Linked DNA regions of Homo sapiens: region 2 is linked to region 1. The links come from fine-mapping of genetic effects on gene expression. Tissue or cell type: cerebellum. Region 1 holds a variant in brackets; the other region holds the start of a gene. All regions are shown on one strand. Distances are from middle to middle.

Region 1 (8,101 bases):
TTTTTTTAAAGCAAATGGTACTGGTACGACCAGATAGCCATTTCAAAAAAAAAGAAAGAAAAGAAAAAAGGGCCAGTCATGGTGACTCATTCCTGTAATCCCAGCACTTTGGCAAACGAACGGCTTGAGTCCATGAGTTCAGGAACAGTCTGAACAACATGGCAAAAGCCTGTCTCTACAAAAAAACAAAGAAAAACAATAAAACAAAACAAAACAAAAATTAGCCAGGCTAGCCGGGCGCGGTGGCGGGCGCCTGCAGTCCCAGCTACTCGGGAGGCTGAGGCAAGAGAATGGCGTGAACCCGGGAGGCAGAGGTTGCAGTGAGCCGAGATAGTGCCACTGCAGTCCTGCCTGGGCGAAAGAGCAAGACTCCATCTCAAAAAAAAAAAAAAAAAAATTAGCCAGGCATGGTGGCACGCATCTGTAGTCCCAGCTACTTAGGAGGCTGAGGTGGGAGGATTGCTTGAGTCTGGAAGGTAGAGGTTGCAGTGAGCTGAGATCACGTCACTTGCACTCCAGTCTAGGCAACACACAGTGAGACCCTGTTCCCCCCACCCACCCAAAAAAAAGGAACCTCAGCCCCTCACACCATACCCAAAAATTAACTTGAAATTCATCATCAGCAACATAAGTGTAAAAGCTAAAACTATCCAACATTTGGAAGAAAATCTTTGCAACATTGGGATAGGCAAAGATATCTTATGGCACAAAAAGCATGAATCACAAAAACCAAAAACTGATAAATCAAACTTTACCAAAATAAAAATTTCTGTTCGGCCGGGCCAGGTGGCTCACGCCTGTAATCCCAGCACTTTGGGAGGCCGAGGCGAGCAGGTCACGAGGTCAGGAGATCAAGACCATCCTGGCCAACATGGTGAAACCCCGTCTCTACTAAAAATACAAAAAAATGAGCAGAGCATGGCAGCACGTGCCTGTAGTCCCAGCTACTCAGGAGGTTGAGGCAGGAGAATTGCTTAAACCCAGGAGGCAGGGCTGCAGTGAGCCGAGATCGCGCCACTGCACTCCAGCCTGGGTGACAGAGCGAGATTCCATCTCCAAAAAAAAAAAAAAAAAAAAAATTCTGCTCTTAGGTAGCATTAAGAAAATAAAAAAGGCAAGCTACGGACTGCAGGAAAATATTTACAATACTATATATTTAACAAAGTACTAGCTTCCAGAATGTATAAAAAATGCCCACATTTAAAAAATAATGACAACCAACCTGATAAAAATAGCAGATAAGGGCTGGGTGCGGTGGCTCATGCCTGTAATCCCAGCACTTTGGGAAGCCAAGGTGGGTGGATCACTTGATGTCAGGAGTTTGAAACTTGCCTGGCCAACATGGCAAAATCCCATCTCTACCAAAAATACAAAAATTAGCAGGGCATGGTGGCTCACGCCTGTGGTCCCACCTACTTGGGGGGCTGAGGTGGGAGGATCGCTTGAGTCCAGGAGGCAGAGGTTGCAATGAGCTGAGTTCATTCCACTGCCCTCCAGCCTGGGCGACAGAGAACCCTGTCTCAACAACAACAACAAAAAAAAGTAGACAAAATATTTGAACAAATTATTCATAAAAGAAAACCCACAAATGGCCATACTGAGCACATGAAAAGATGTCAAACATTATTAGTCATTAGGGAAATACCACAATTAAATGACAAGATACCACTACACACTCACTAGAATGGCTAAATTGAAGAGACTGACAATACCAAGTGCTGATGAGGATCTGGAGTATCCAGAACTCATACATTATTAATGAGAATGTGAAACAATATAATCAACCACTTTGGAAAACAATTTTTATACAGTTAAATATACATTTATTATTAAGCCCAGCAATTCATTTACCCAAAAAGCTAGACTGACTGTTTATGTCCTCCCCAGGTTCATACCTTGAAACCTAATCCCTCATATGATGGTACTTGGAGGTAGGGCCTTTGGGCCTCCTCGGAGGTGATTAGGTCATGAGGGCAGAGCCTGCATGAATGGGATTGGTGCCCTTATAAAAGAGACCCCAGAGAGCTCCCTTGCCCCTTCTGCCATGTCTAGGAGAACACAGCAAGAAGACCGCCATCTATGAATCAAGACATGGGCCCTCAACAGACACTGAATCCACTGGCACCTTGATCTTGGACTTCCCAGCCTCCAGAACCATGAAAAATAAATTTCTGTTGTTTATAAGCCACCCAGGCTGTGGTTCTTAGTTATAGCAGCCCGACGGACTAAGACACAAAAGAAATAAAAACATATGTTTAGACAATTATTATTGTAGGAACATTCACAGCAGTTTTATTCATGATGGCCAAGAATTAGAAACAGCCAAAATGTTCACCAACAGGTAGATGGATAAATAAATCATGGTCTAACCACAGAGGGGAATACTACTCAGCAATACAAAGGAGTCTCTCCTAATACGTGCAACAACATTCATGAATCCCAAAAACTTTATCTGGAGCCAAGCCAGACACAAATGTGTACATACAGTACGGAATGACTTCAGATTCTGAAAAAAGGCAAATCTGACCAATTGAGGCAGAAAGCAGGTCAGTGGTTCCCCAGGTCTGGGACTGGGGTGGGTTACTGATAGCAAATGGGCATGTGGGTGCCTTGGGGTAGGGTAAAGGTTCCATCTTGATCACGGTGGTGTTTCCCAAGTGTATACACTCACCAAAACTATACTTAGAACTCAAAACTCGCCAAATATATACTTAAAATGGATGCAGTTGGTTATGTATAAATTATACCTCAATAAAGTTGATTAAAAACATCAATTCCTCAGAAAATTCTTTTCTGACCACTCCCCTCTCAGACGAGGTCGGGCCTCCTGGTATGCATACCCATACCCACTACAACCTGTATTTATTTTTTTTGAAACATGGTCTCTTTCTGTTGTCCAGGCTGGAGTGCAGTGGCTCAATTAGGACTCACTGCAGCCTCGACCTCCCAGGCTCAAGTGATCCTCCCATTTCAGCCTCCTGAGTAGCTGGGACCACAGGCATGTACCACCACACCCAGCTAATTTTTTTTTTTTTTTTTTTTGGTAGAAACAGGATCTTACTATGTGGCCCAGGCTGGTCTCAAACTTCTGGTCTCAAAGCAATCTTCCCATCTTGGCCTCCCAAAGTGCTGGGATTACAGGCATCAGCCACCTCACCTGGCCAACCTGTATTTTTCTTTCACTGCATTTCCTGAGTCTGTAATTATTATTATTATGTTTTAAAGAGATGAAGTCTCCCTCTGTCACCCAGTCTGGCATGCAGTGGTGTGATTGTAGCTTACTGCTACCTTGAACTCTTGGACTCAAGTGATCCTGCTGCCTCAGCCTCCTGAGTAGCTAGAGCTGTTAGCACATACCACCATGCCCAGCTAATGTTTAAAATTTTTTGTAGAGATAGGGGGTCTCACTATGTTACCTAGGCTGGTTTCAAACTCTGGCCTCAATTGATCCTCCCACCTTGGCCTCCCAAAGTGCTGGGATTACAGTCATGAGCTGCCACAACCAGCCTGTAATTATGTTGTTACTGATTTTCTGTCAGTTAATTACCTTTAGCCTGGAATACCACGCTCACCATTGATTGCTAAGCACCTGGAGCCATGTCTGCACACAAAGGGTGCTCAATAAACACTCCTTAAATGAGGAATGCAGGAGGGAGTGAGGACCAGGGCCCTGGCAGGAAGCAGAGGACAGGACAGTAGCTGGCTTTGGCTCTGGCCACCCCTTTGGGACTAGAGTTCTGTTGACTGGATAACCTCCAGGCTCCTCCACGTGGGGCCCTGGGCCCGCCTGGGGAAGTTGAGTCTGTGTAATTCCTTGGAGATCTCTTGGAAGGTCTTGCCTTTGGTCTCAGGAAGGAACAGGCCAGTGTAGATGGCCCCACAGACACAGACACCAAGGAAAGGGACATAGAGGAAGTGGGACAAGGCCTCCTGCGGATTAAAAAAGACCCCAAGACCTGGTGTGTCTCCATCAACCCCTAAACAGAAGGCCCATGACAGGTCGTGAGGAGGCATTTGCCCCCCTCTTTGCTCCCCTAAGACCCCTCCCTTTCAGTCTCAGTCTCCCTGGATGGAAGCCTCCCCCTGGGGTTCTCAGGATGACAGGGACACAGCCTAAGGCAGGGCCCCCAGCGGGAGGGGCGGGCCTACCATGATAAAGGGAAATCCCAGGCCGACCAGGATGAGCATGATCCACATGAGCGCCCCGCAGACCATGCAGGCAGCAGGCCTGGCCATCTGGTCAAA[C/G]AGCTCTGTGGCCAGGATCCCCGTCACTCCGGCTAGAAGGAGGGGCAGGGACAGGGGGCTGCTGGCCAGGGTTCCCTGCCTGCCTCTCCCCGACCCCAGCCCAGACATGGGAGTGGGAGCCCAGGCCCAGTCTGTATGGGGGGCCCCTCAGTGCTCTCCTCCTGCCATTCCCTCCCAGAAGCCCCGGCATGAGGTGGTCTCTGAGGGCCTGCAGGGGACATTGCATTCACACCCACCCACTGTGCACCCAGGCACCCATCACTCCTTCTATGTGATGATGGATGCCCAGAGCCCCTTGGGCCCACTCACCAGGGCCAATGCCAAAGCTGAGGATGAAGGCAAAGATGCAGGCCATGGCCAGGTAGAGTGTCCAGGGGAAGGAGCTCTGCCGTGGACGGGGCGGGGGTGAGGTGGAAGTCAGCCCGGCCTGGACCCCCCAGCCCTCATCCACCCCAGCTACCTGCAGGCACAGGGCCACAGTGAAGATGCTCCCCCAGCAGGTCATCAGGCTGTACCCACCGATGAGCAGCACGCGCCGACCCACCCTCTCGATTACCACACACTGCAAAGGCAGAAAGCACAGACCCACACACCCAGCCATGGTCCCTGAGGTCTGGGGCAGGCAATGGGAAGGGGTCTCCTGAGAAAGCTGGTGGTGGAGGTGAGGGTAGTTTATTGCTTCAGTGTGACTTTATTAATTTCCCAAAGGAACTTGGTCAATCAATCACCCAACTTCAGCCAGTTTCCGCATCTCAAAATGGTGCTGGAAGTGACCCGCAAACCGTAGATGCTCAATAGATGCTCTCTAACTCACTGCATTGATTGATTGATTGAGACAGGGTCTTACTGGTCTCACTGAGCTGAGACAGGGTCTCACTGGTCCAGCCCACGCTGGAGTGCAGTGGCACAATCTCGGTTTACTGCAGTCTCAACCTCCTAGGCTCAAGTGATCCTCCCACCTCAGCCTCGCCAGTAGCTAGCACTACAGGCGAAGACCACCACGCCTGGCTAATTTTTGTATTTTTTGTAGAGACGGGGTTTCACCATGTTGCCCAGGCTGGTCTCCAACTCCTGATCCCACCTCAGCACTATTGCCTGGGCTGGAGTGCAATGGCACCATCTCGGCTCACTGCAACCTCCACCTACTGGGTTCATGCGATTCTCCTGCCTCAGCCTCCCAAGTACCTGGGATTACAGGCGCCCGCCACCACGCCGGGATAATTTTTTGTATTTTTTAGTAGAGACGGGGGTTTCACTGTGTTGGCCAGGCTGGTCTCGAACTCCTGACCTTGTGATCCACCCACCTCGGCCTCCCAAAGTGCTGGGCTTACAGGCATGAGCCACCGCACCTGGCCCCTCACTGCATTTTAACACCATAAGCTGGAGTGTAAACTGGTTTAATGCAGAGGACCTGGGGGTCCCTCCCCACAGGGCTGGTGGAGGAAGGGCACCCTCCAGACTCACACTAACAACCGCCGTGAGCAGCTCGCAGCTCCCAGTCCCGATGATCGCGTACTGGATCTTCGCTTCCGGCACTCCTGCCTTCCGGAACACGGAGGAGGCGTAGGCGTACACCTGGGAGAGGGTGGCTTTCAGGCCTGGGCTCCCTTCCACCTCCCATGGCTCCCAGCGGCCTGCAACACCAAGCCCCCGGGGCCCAGGGTGTGCGGCGGGGCAGGGGTCTCACCGAGTCATTCCCGCAGAGCTCCATGGCACTGCCCAGAACCACGAGGCTTGTCACCTGTCTCCTCAGGGCCCGATGCTGGAACAGCTCCCATGGGCGCCGGGCACGGCAGCCCTGGCAGGCAGCGCGCTCCTCCTCCAGCTCCTCCAGCTCCCCTGCCAAGTCCCCGGAGCCCCGGAGCCGCCGTAGTGCTGAGCCAGGGAGGAGGGTACTGAGCTCCCCGTCCCCAAGCCCCTCTTTGGTCCCCCTACAGGGACGCCCCCCTCCATCCCACCATTCCTTTCCTTCTTGGCTCACTCTCTGTCTCTGAGTCTGTCTGTGTGTGTGTGTGTCTCTCTCTCTGCCTCTGTCTCTCTCAATCTCTCTGTCTCTGTGTGTGTCTCTGTGTGTGTGTGTGTTTCTCTCTCTGCCTCTCAATCTCTCTGTCTCTGTGTCTGTGTGTGTGTGTGTGTTTCTCTCTCTCTCTGCCTCTGTCTCTCTCAATCTCTCTGTCTCTGTGTCTGTGTGTGTGTGTTTCTCTCTCTCTCTGCCTGTCTTTCTCAATCTCTCTGTCTCTGTGTGTGTCTCTGTGTGTGTGTGTGTTTCTCTCTCTGCCTCTCAATCTCTCTGTCTCTGTGTCTGTGTGTGTGTTTCTCTCTCTCTCTGCCTCTGTCTCTCTCAATCTCTCTGTCTCTGTGTGTGTGTGTGTGTGTGTGTTTCTCTCTCTCTCTGCCTCTGTCTCTCTCAATCTCTCTGTCTCTGTGTCTGTGTGTGTGTGTGTTTCTCTCTCTCTGCCTCTGTCTCTCTCAATCTCTCTGTCTCTGTGTCTGTGTGTGTGTGTGTTTCTCTCTCTCTCTGCCTCTGTCTCTCTCAATCTCTCTGTCTCTGTGTCTGTCTGTGTGTGTGTGTGTTTCTCTCTCTCTGCCTCTGTCTCTCTCAATCTCTCTGTCTCTGTTTGCCTCCCTGGTCAGATGGAGATGATCTTCCTTGCCCTGACATTTCTCAGGGCTGTTGCGGTGTTGCCACCATGGATGAAAAAAGGCTTTAGAAAGAAACGCAGGGTTCTGCGGACATATCAGACAGGACATGACTATTGCAGCACATTATCAAACCCAATTCTTCACCCCTCCCTGCACCCACACTGCTTGCTGTGTGATTTTGCAGTTCCTCCCACTAAAGGGGCAAGTACTGCCTACATCCCTGCTCCTGGCTCTGGGCTCGGCCAATAGGATGAGGCTGCAGTGAGGGCGTACCATGTTCCAGCCTAAGCCTTAAGAGGCCTTGCTCACTTCTACTTGCTCTTCTGCCTTCATGAGAACATTCCAGGCTAGCCAGGAGGATGACAAGACATGGACAGCCAAAGGGGCCCAGCTAAGCCACCCTCACTGGGACTATTCTAGATCAGCCAGCCAATGCCCAGCTGAGCTGCAGTTGCAGGAATGACCAAGATCAGCAGAGCCATCAGCCAGAACCATCCTAGATCAGCCCAGCCCAGAGGACTTAGAGGCTTAGGCTAAATAATTGCTTTTTTTGTTTCTTTACCACCGAGATGTTATGATCATCTATTAGTCAGCAATAGAAAGCTGATCAATAAATTGGCACCAGGAGTTGGTGCTACCGTAACAAAGACCTGTGAAATATGGTATCAGTTCCAAGACGAGGCAGAGGACGGCGATGAGGCTGGAGAAATGAAAAGCTATGTTATATAGTGCAGTAACACGGAAGAAAGAAAATGGGCTCAGTGAACTTATGGACTTGAGCAAAGAAAACTCCAAATGTTGAAAGCATGAACTGGTTGCTGTTAGATGCATATTCTAAGCTTGCTGTAAGACATGAAGAATTAGCTCAGAAAATAACTGGCCAGTTTGCAAGCAGAATTCAGAGGCAACAAAATTTAATTAAACGTAGCATATTTCAGAAACACTGGGTTAGTTGAAAACAACAACAAAAAATGTTTTCTCGCCTCTATCCTCTCCAGCTAGCAAAAGAATCCCAAATTAAGTAACAGCCTGTGAGCAAAGATCAAATCCAGAGCACTGCCAGGAAGCCATGGACTCATAGTAAAGATCAAATCAAGGGTATAGCTTAAAGCAGTGCCTCACAGACCCTCACAACTAGAAAAGGGGGCATTTAGGAGGCTTGAGGGCGTTGATTCACGGTAGCCTGACATACCCTAAATACCAGCAATTAGGC
Region 2 (8,101 bases), 76 kb before region 1:
TCCGCTTTCAAAGACTCAGCAGCCAGCACTGATGGGCTAGGGGAAGACAGAGTCAGCGGAGGGGCTGGGCATAGCCAAGTGTAAGGCAGCATGACCTGCTTTAGGGGTTCTCTGATTGGATTTTCCCTCCTCCACCATGTGTGTGATGGGCTAGGATGTCCCCCTCCCTGGGGACACTTGGAAGCCTCTTAATATAGCTGCGGTGAGGGGTTTGTAAAGCCCCATTTTATAGATGAGGACACTGAGGCTCAGAAGGAGAAGTGACTCACACAGGGTCCCACAGCCAGAAAAGACAACATGAGCTGGGATGTCAGCTCCCTTCCCGGATACACCACTGCCCAGCGGGCCACCGCACCCCATGGCACTCTCATGCCTCAGCTCCGTGATTGCCACCAAGCCAGCCACAGAGATACGGGGCCCAGTAAGGAAGGCCTGGTCCCGCAGGAACTTGTCCTCGAGCAGCTGCAAGCATCCGTCCAGCTCAGCCAAAGTGGCCGCCAACATCTCGGGTGGCACTGACTCGCCCAGGAACACAGGGATTATTATCTGGTGGGCCGACAGGCAGAGAGAGGGGTCAGGGTCTGCCCAAAGCCCATCCTGGTTCCCACCATCATCCTATCATCACCAGTCCTTGGGATTTCTGCTCACCTCTGCTCACTTCTTTCCACTCATAGCCACCAGTAGCTCTCATCTCCTACTCAAACAGGGACAGCCTCCCCCTTCTCCCTGGGTCCTCACACAAGGCAACCAGTGGGATCCTTCTGTAATCTCAATCTGCCCGTACCCTCTCTTGCATAAAGCCTTCCATGGCTCCCCACTGCCCTCATGAGAAAGGCCTCAACACAAAGCCAGCCTTCTCCAGTGCGGTAGCCATCCCCTCCCCACTTTTCACCTCACCTCCTACTACCCCCCACTTATCAAACGGGAATGTGTGTATGAATCCTCCCTGGAATCTGGTTACAGTTTATGCTCCCAATCAGTAAGGTCAGAGTGGGGCCTGAGCCTCTGCATTTCCAACAAGCTCCCTGGTGATGCTGATACTCCCAGTCCATTGACCACACTTTGGATAGGAAGAGTCTACACTTGCTCTACTCAACTTCTCTCCATTCTGTCCTCAAACACACCACGCTTCCTTCCCCACCAGCTGGAGGGGGCTCTGCTCCCAGGCCCCAGAGGTCAAGGCAGACACAGTTAAGGTGTGGAAACCTCCTTATTGCCCGATGGATCCTCCAGAGAGGCGGTCCCTTACTTTCAGCAGGGCGCGTGTCTACCTGTTTCATGCTGTCTCACACACAGGGTGCCACCCCTGTGCTGGGCACTGGGTAAGTGCTCTGTACATATTAATTAGGAGTACTCATTTCAAAAATATGTGTGCCTTTGATAAATAAAAACAGTATGTGCATGTTGTGTTGGTGTGTGCTTCCTTGATTATTACTGAAGTTAAACATGTTTTCATCCATGTATTGACCATTTCTCTTTGTCCTTCAATGAAACCTCTGCTGATTTCCTTCGCTCATTTTTTTCCTGTGTCTTCGTCTGATGAGTTTCTCTTCTTTTTGTTTGTTCGTTTGTTTGTTTTGAGACAGTCTCGCTCAGTGGCCCGGCTGGAGTGCAGTGGTATGATCTCAGCTCACTGAAACCTCTGCCTCCAAGGTTCAAGTGATTCTCCTGTCTCAGCCTCCCGAGTGTGCCACCGCACCCAGCTAATTTTTGTATTTTTAGTAGAGACGGGGCTTCACCGTGTTGCCCAGGCTGGTCTCAAACTCCTGACCTCAACTGATCCGCCCATCTCTGCCTCCCAAAGTACAGGGATTACAGGCGTGAACCACCACACCCTACCTGTCTGATGGGTTTCTAAGAACATCTTAAAGGACATTACTTCCTTCTGACGTATCTTTTACCGAGATCCTTCCCAGTTTTTTGCTTAAGGTTAATCCATTTTTTCCTCCACAAAGTAACCTTGTATATGTATTGGTTTTTTCTTTGTTGAGTTCTCCCACTGTTCTGAGGCTTAGAAAGTCCTTTCATACCCAGACATCAGAGAAACAGATCCCGTGAGAGTAACTGGGATTGCAGGTGTGGGCCAGCATGCCCTGTTATCACTCCCTTTCTCTGAGTCAGCTTTTCTCTCTCAGTCTCGTCTACTCCTCGAACTCAGGAAATGTCACTACAGGTGGCCCCAGCTCCCGTTTACCTCCCCATAGGGAGCTCCTCTCTCCAGTTCCAGTTTCAAAACTCCCAAGGAAGCATTCTGGTTCACTCGCTTGGGCCACTGGCCAGAGGGATGGGATACTCTGAAAGATTCAGCTAGAGTCCCGGGCCCAGCCCTGGACCATCACTGTGCCCCCTGGTGAGATGCCAGGGCTGGGATTCAGGGAGAAGAAAGGAGGTTCCCGGACAGTCATTCCTGCCTCCCGCGGCTGCGGGCTCCCTGCCCCCATCCTGTGCACGAAGTGGGAGCTCCCGCTGTCTGGCAGCTCCCGCTGTCTGGCAGCAGCTGCTCTGCAGGGGACAGTCTGGACGGCAGAAAGTTCATCCTTAACCCCAGCCTTCCAGTCAAGGTTCCCACCAGTTTGGGACACCTGCAAGTGTCACATCCCACTGGGTGAAACTCTAAGATCCCTTTTAGGGGATCCCATTCGCTCCCTCCCTTCCGCCACCATGCAGCGCCGAGAAACAGAGCTCTGAACGAACCCTCAGATGTCCGTGCGCTGGGGCCTTTCCAGGACGGCGGCGCCCAGTCGTTTCTGGGTCAGGGCGACGCCTGGAACTGGGCAGGGTCCCTGGCACCGGGATCCCGAAAAGCAGACCTGCTTCTCCCTGTCCAGCCGGTTCCCCTTCCCCTTGCAGTCGGCCCCCTGCATCCGCGTCCTCCCTGCCAGTCGAGGGTCCCCAGCTCCAACTCCACCCTCCCAGCTGTGCGTTCATAGCGACCGCCCTCCCTGTAGGGACGCACGGATCTGGTGGTGGAGTCTTGGCCGGCAGGACTGGACAGGAACCGAAGGGGCGAGGCGGGTCCGGGGGTGGTGCGCTCCAATTGGGTGCTGTCCCCAGGGGGTGGGGCCTGATCCCCTATTTCCCGGCGCGCCGGGATCCTGCCACAGCTGCTGCCCACACCGCGCTCAGCGCCTTCACTGCCATCCCCGCTGTCCTTGCCGCCCCCGCCATGGGCCTAGAGCTGTTTCTTGACCTGGTGTCCCAGCCCAGCCGCGCCGTCTACATCTTCGCCAAGAAGAATGGCATCCCCTTAGAGCTGCGCACCGTGGATTTGGTCAAAGGTGGGCCCAGCCCGTTTCCCCGCGTGTCCACAAACCCAGTGCACCCCCAGGCCCCCGCCCTGCTCTGCCCTGAGCGTCTCGCCGCCCGCACAGCCCCCTCACCTCCTCCTGCAGCGTCTGCCACCAGAGAATGCTGTGGACTGAGTGGCCTTGGAGGGATCACAGCCTCTCTGAACCTTAGCTTGCCTTCTGAAAAGGAGGATAATGTTACCTTCTGCTCTGTAGGGATGGAAAGAAAATACTGAATGGAGTTGACAGAGTTCTTGCGTGGAATGCACGCATATAAATTCACAAAGCCCAGAAGACCTTGGGAAGAAGGACATGCTGTTGTGAGAATTAAGAGATGGGAAGAGATGAGCCACCCCAGTTTGCCTCCCCTCCCCTGGCCCACCAGAGTCCGGCTAGAAAACTTCTCTTTATCCACCTGCTGCACCTGGCCCCACCCACCAAAGCCCCCCAGCTGCCCCGGAATGTGGCAGGGCAGGGAGGCCCAGCCAGGGAGTGAGGCTGATCCAGGCCTCTAGTCCCAGACCTTGCTGTTTCTCAGGGCTGTGGGGCTCCGCTTGGGGAGGAGGAGGGAGGGTGTAGAGGTGCAGCGTTTTTATTCTGAAGACCTTTTCTGACTTCTTCCTCTTCAGGGCAGCACAAGAGCAAGGAGTTCTTGCAGATCAACAGCCTGGGGAAACTGCCGACGCTCAAGGATGGTGATTTCATCTTGACCGAAAGGTGCCCTCCTTCCCTCACCCCTCACCGCATCCGGAGCCCATGTGACCTTGGCTCTCCCCACTGGCCCCGGGCCCCAGTGGCCCTCCCATACCCCATGGGGCAGCGAGGGAGGGGAAAGGCGAGGGATCTGGCCGGGCGCGGTGGCTCACGCCTGTCATCCCGGCACTTCGGGAGGCCAAGGCGGGCGGATCACGAGGTCAGGAGACCGAGACCATCCTGGCTAACACCGTGAAACACCGTCTCTACTAAAAATGGAAAAAAAATTAACCGGGCGTGGTGGCGGGCGTCTGTAGTCCCAGCTACTCTGGAGGCTGAGGCAGGAGAATGGTGTGAACCCAGGAAGCGGAGCTTGCAGTGTGCTGAGATCGCGCCACTGCACTCCAGCCTGGGCGACAGAGCTAGACTCCGTCTCAAAAAGGCCGGGCGCGGTGGTTTACGCCTGTAATCCCAGCACTTTGGGAGGCCGAGGTGGGCGGATCACGAGGTCAGGAGATCGAGACCATCCTGGGTAACACGGTGAAACCCTGTCTCTACTAAAAATACAAAACATTAGCAGGGCGTGGTGGCGGCCGCCTGTAGTCCCAGCTACTGGGGAGGCTGAGGCAGGAGAATGGCGTGAACCCAGGAGGCGGAGCTTGCAATGAGCAGAGATAGCACCACTGCACTCCAGCCTGGGTGACAGAGGGAGCCCACTCCAGCCTGGGCGACAGAGGGAGACTCCGTCTCAAAAAAAAAGGAAAGAAAGAAAGGAGAGGTATCTGGGGAGAAGGTACAGCTTGGGGTGTGACCGGGATGAGCAGGGGCTGACAGAACATGTCCCCCCACCTCTCATCTTCCAGCCTTTTCTGAGCCGCAGGGCCTCTCCACTCCCAGACTGAAGGGTATTAGAAGAGAAGACAAGGGAACATTTTTCCACTGTTGCGCATTTGTTCAACAAATGCTAGCTGAAAAGAGCCTCTAGTGACTTGTTGCAGACTACCCAATCTACCCAGGCCGGGCCTAGAGGCCAATGCCATGGCCCAAGGGCACAGCTCATGGTGAGGTCCAGCTGCTGGGCAGGAAAAGGACAAGAGGTCAGGTGGCTGCAGAAGTGATGGCTGGGGGCCTGTCAGACGGGGGCCAAAGACATTCCTCCCCTCGTGATCCCTGACCCAAGCGCGTGGACATGCAAGGGACTCCACGGAGCATCCACTGTGTGCCAGCCCCATGCAGGGTTCCAGGGGTCCAGGGAGCCTATTCTGAGCTGCACCGCCTCGGACAAGTCACTTGACCATTCTGACCTTGAGTTTTCTCTTGTGCTAAAAGGCTAACAGGAGTGTCTACCTCACAGGGCGGCTGCTGGCATATCACAGAGATGAGGTTCTCAAAATGCAAAGCAGAAGGTCCAGCCAAGAGTCGGTGCCCAAGGCAACAAAGACAGGAGGAGACTCGTAGGAGGAGGGGGTGGTGTTGGGGAGCTGGAGATGGAGGGCGAGGCTGGAGGGCAGTCCTTCAAATGCAGAGAAGCCCCCGGGCCCCACTGGCAGATGGGAGCAGTTAGGGGTAAATGCCTGGTGCCAGTGTCCTTATAGCCACTGCCCATTTGTTCCCAGCTCGGCCATCCTGATTTACCTGAGCTGTAAGTACCAGACGCCGGACCACTGGTATCCATCTGACCTGCAGGCTCGTGCCCGTGTTCATGAGTACCTGGGCTGGCATGCCGACTGCATCCGTGGCACCTTTGGTATACCCCTGTGGGTCCAGGTGAGGAGAGCCATCTGGAGAGTGATTGGCCATCAGGGAGTAGTTGGCAGTAGGCCGGGGCCATAGACTGACCCACTCTCTGCCCCCATCAGGTGTTGGGGCCACTCATTGGGGTCCAGGTGCCCGAGGAGAAGGTGGAACGCAACAGGACTGCCATGGACCAGGCCCTGCAATGGCTGGAGGACAAGTTCCTGGGGGACAGGCCCTTCCTCGCTGGCCAGCAGGTGACACTGGCTGATCTCATGGCCCTGGAGGAGCTGATGCAGGTGTGAGCTCAGCCTGTGGGCAGTGTCCCTCTTCGTGTCACACCCATGAGGCAGACAGAAACACTGAGGCCTGGAGAAAGCCAGAACTTTGCCCAGAATCATAGAGCAAGTCTCTGGATGATCTGGGGCCAGAACCCTGAACTTCTGCCTCCTGCCTGGGTGTGGGGTCTCACCCTGGCTGCTCTTGGGCTCTAAGGCTGAACATACTGCCTGGGCCCCTGTGGTCCATTCACTTAGGGGCTGGGGAATGGACCATGTCTCTGATACTTCTGCCCATGGTTCCAGCATTCGGGTCGGCAGTGACAACTGGGAAAGTTGTATGCCCACAACTTTTTCATCCTTGTCCCTACAGCCGGTGGCTCTCGGCTATGAACTGTTTGAGGGACGGCCACGACTGGCAGCATGGCGTGGACGAGTGGAGGCTTTCCTGGGTGCTGAGCTATGCCAGGAGGCCCACAGCATCATCTTGAGCATCCTGGAACAGGCGGCCAAGAAAACCCTCCCAACACCCTCACCAGAGGCCTATCAGGCTATGCTGCTTCGAATCGCCAGGATCCCCTGAAGGGTCTGGGATGGGGGCCAGGAGATTAGCAACAAGGATTCATTCTGTTACTTACTTGCCCCTTTTTATCTTTCCCTCTTGCCCCAGTCCCTTCTCTCCAGCTTCATGTGAAGCTCTGCACAGACAAGACACTCAGTGTCCTTGGCAGTGCTGCTACTCCTCAGGTGCAGCATACATAACCAGTAAGAGACTAAATCTGCAATATATAAAGAGCTCCTACAAATCAGTAACATGAAGAACACTCAAAAATTGGCAAATGTCATCAGTGTTTTAAACAGAATAAAGATTCCAAACACTTTGAATAGAGAACCAAGAGTTATTGGTTTTACTACATTGTTGTGTTATACATATGGAGTAAAAGTATGTGCTAGTAATCCTCATCATGGTTAATAACAAAGTAACCTCACAATAACGAGTCAACATAATTGTATCACCAGGGCAACAAAATGTTAAGTAAGTAACCAATTCGAATTGCAAACTGTTAAAGGATATAGGCGATGTTTCACAGGGCATAGCAACGGTCTTTGAAGTCTAGGAAACTTAAAAGATTTCTTTTAACAAGCATTCATGTCTTCTAGGACAGTTTTGTAATAACTGCAAATAGTAAGATTATACATTGTCACACAGACCTCCATGTATATCCATGGGATGGACCCCACCACAATGATTTTAACGGAGAGAACTTGATATAAAGAATTGGTAACCAGGCATTAGAGAACTCCGAAGACAGAGAGAATCCAGATTAACACGGAGGTAAACACTGCAAGAAGCTACCACCCCTAGGGCTGGGGGATCAAGGGAGGAATTAGGAAGACCAAGATGCTGGAGGGGCCCTGAAGAATTCAAACCTCCAAGAAAGGTGTTGCTCATCCCCCCTAGTATCACCTTCCAAGAAGGGCAGGTTTCCCCAGTTTGCCCTGAGGTCTTCACAGGAGGTCATGTGGCTGTGGATGCAGTTCTCAAATGTGACAGTAGATGTCACTGCCGACCAATAAACAGGATGTTCCAGACACACTCTGGGCTACCTGCCCACATGTCTTGTGGCCTTACGGCCCCCCATTTCCCAAGCCTGCCCTGTGCCCATCATGTGCCACTCTATCGGGGGACCTGCCCCAATAATCACGTAGGTTCTTTCCTATTTTTCCTAACCGTCAGCCGGCTTGAGAAATAAAGGGAGAGAGTACAAAAGAGAGAAATTGTAAAGCTGGGCATCCGGGGGAGACGTCACACGTTGGTAGGATCCGTGATGCCCCACAAGCCACAAAAACCAGCAAGTTTTTATTAGGGATTTTCAAAAGGGGAGGGAGTGTGCGAACAGGTGTGAGTGACAGACATCAAGTACTTAAGAGGGTAATAGAATATCACAAGGCAAGTGGAGGCAGGGCAAGATCACAGGACCACAGGACCGAGGCAAAATTAAAATTGCTAATGAAGTTTCGGGCACCATTGTCATTGATAACATCTTATCAGGAGACAGGGTTTTGAGACCAACCGGTCTCACCAAAATTTATTAGGTGGGAATTTCC

What was found. PIP is the estimated chance that this variant, and not a neighbour inherited with it, causes the effect.
Region 2: it holds the start of GSTT2B, and the variant in region 1 is fine-mapped to the expression of GSTT2B in cerebellum (GTEx, PIP above 0.99). The same link has a PIP of 0.9 or more in cerebellar hemisphere, lymphoblastoid cells and skeletal muscle.

The regions. Positions count from the first base shown.
Region 1 is chr22:23,880,478-23,888,578 of GRCh38, reverse strand. SLC2A11 (solute carrier family 2 member 11) reads right to left here. Exons shown (of 12, transcript NM_001024939.4): 7 at 5,933-6,120; 8 at 5,710-5,820; 9 at 4,706-4,807; 10 at 4,555-4,630; 11 at 4,150-4,277; 12 at 2,267-3,930. The coding sequence ends at 3,730. Among named protein-coding and RNA genes, the nearest start is that of MIF, 9.9 kb to the left of the region's middle. RefSeq lists an enhancer at 1-217. The variant C/G (reference allele first, on the strand shown) is at 4,246.
Region 2 is chr22:23,956,197-23,964,297 of GRCh38, reverse strand. It overlaps GSTT2B (glutathione S-transferase theta 2B), which reads left to right and starts at 3,103. Exons shown (of 5, transcript NM_001080843.4): 1 at 3,103-3,278; 2 at 3,917-4,004; 3 at 5,597-5,747; 4 at 5,840-6,013; 5 at 6,366-6,884. The coding sequence starts at 3,167. The coding sequence ends at 6,575. RefSeq lists enhancers at 4,217-4,882, 7,199-7,806, 7,807-8,101.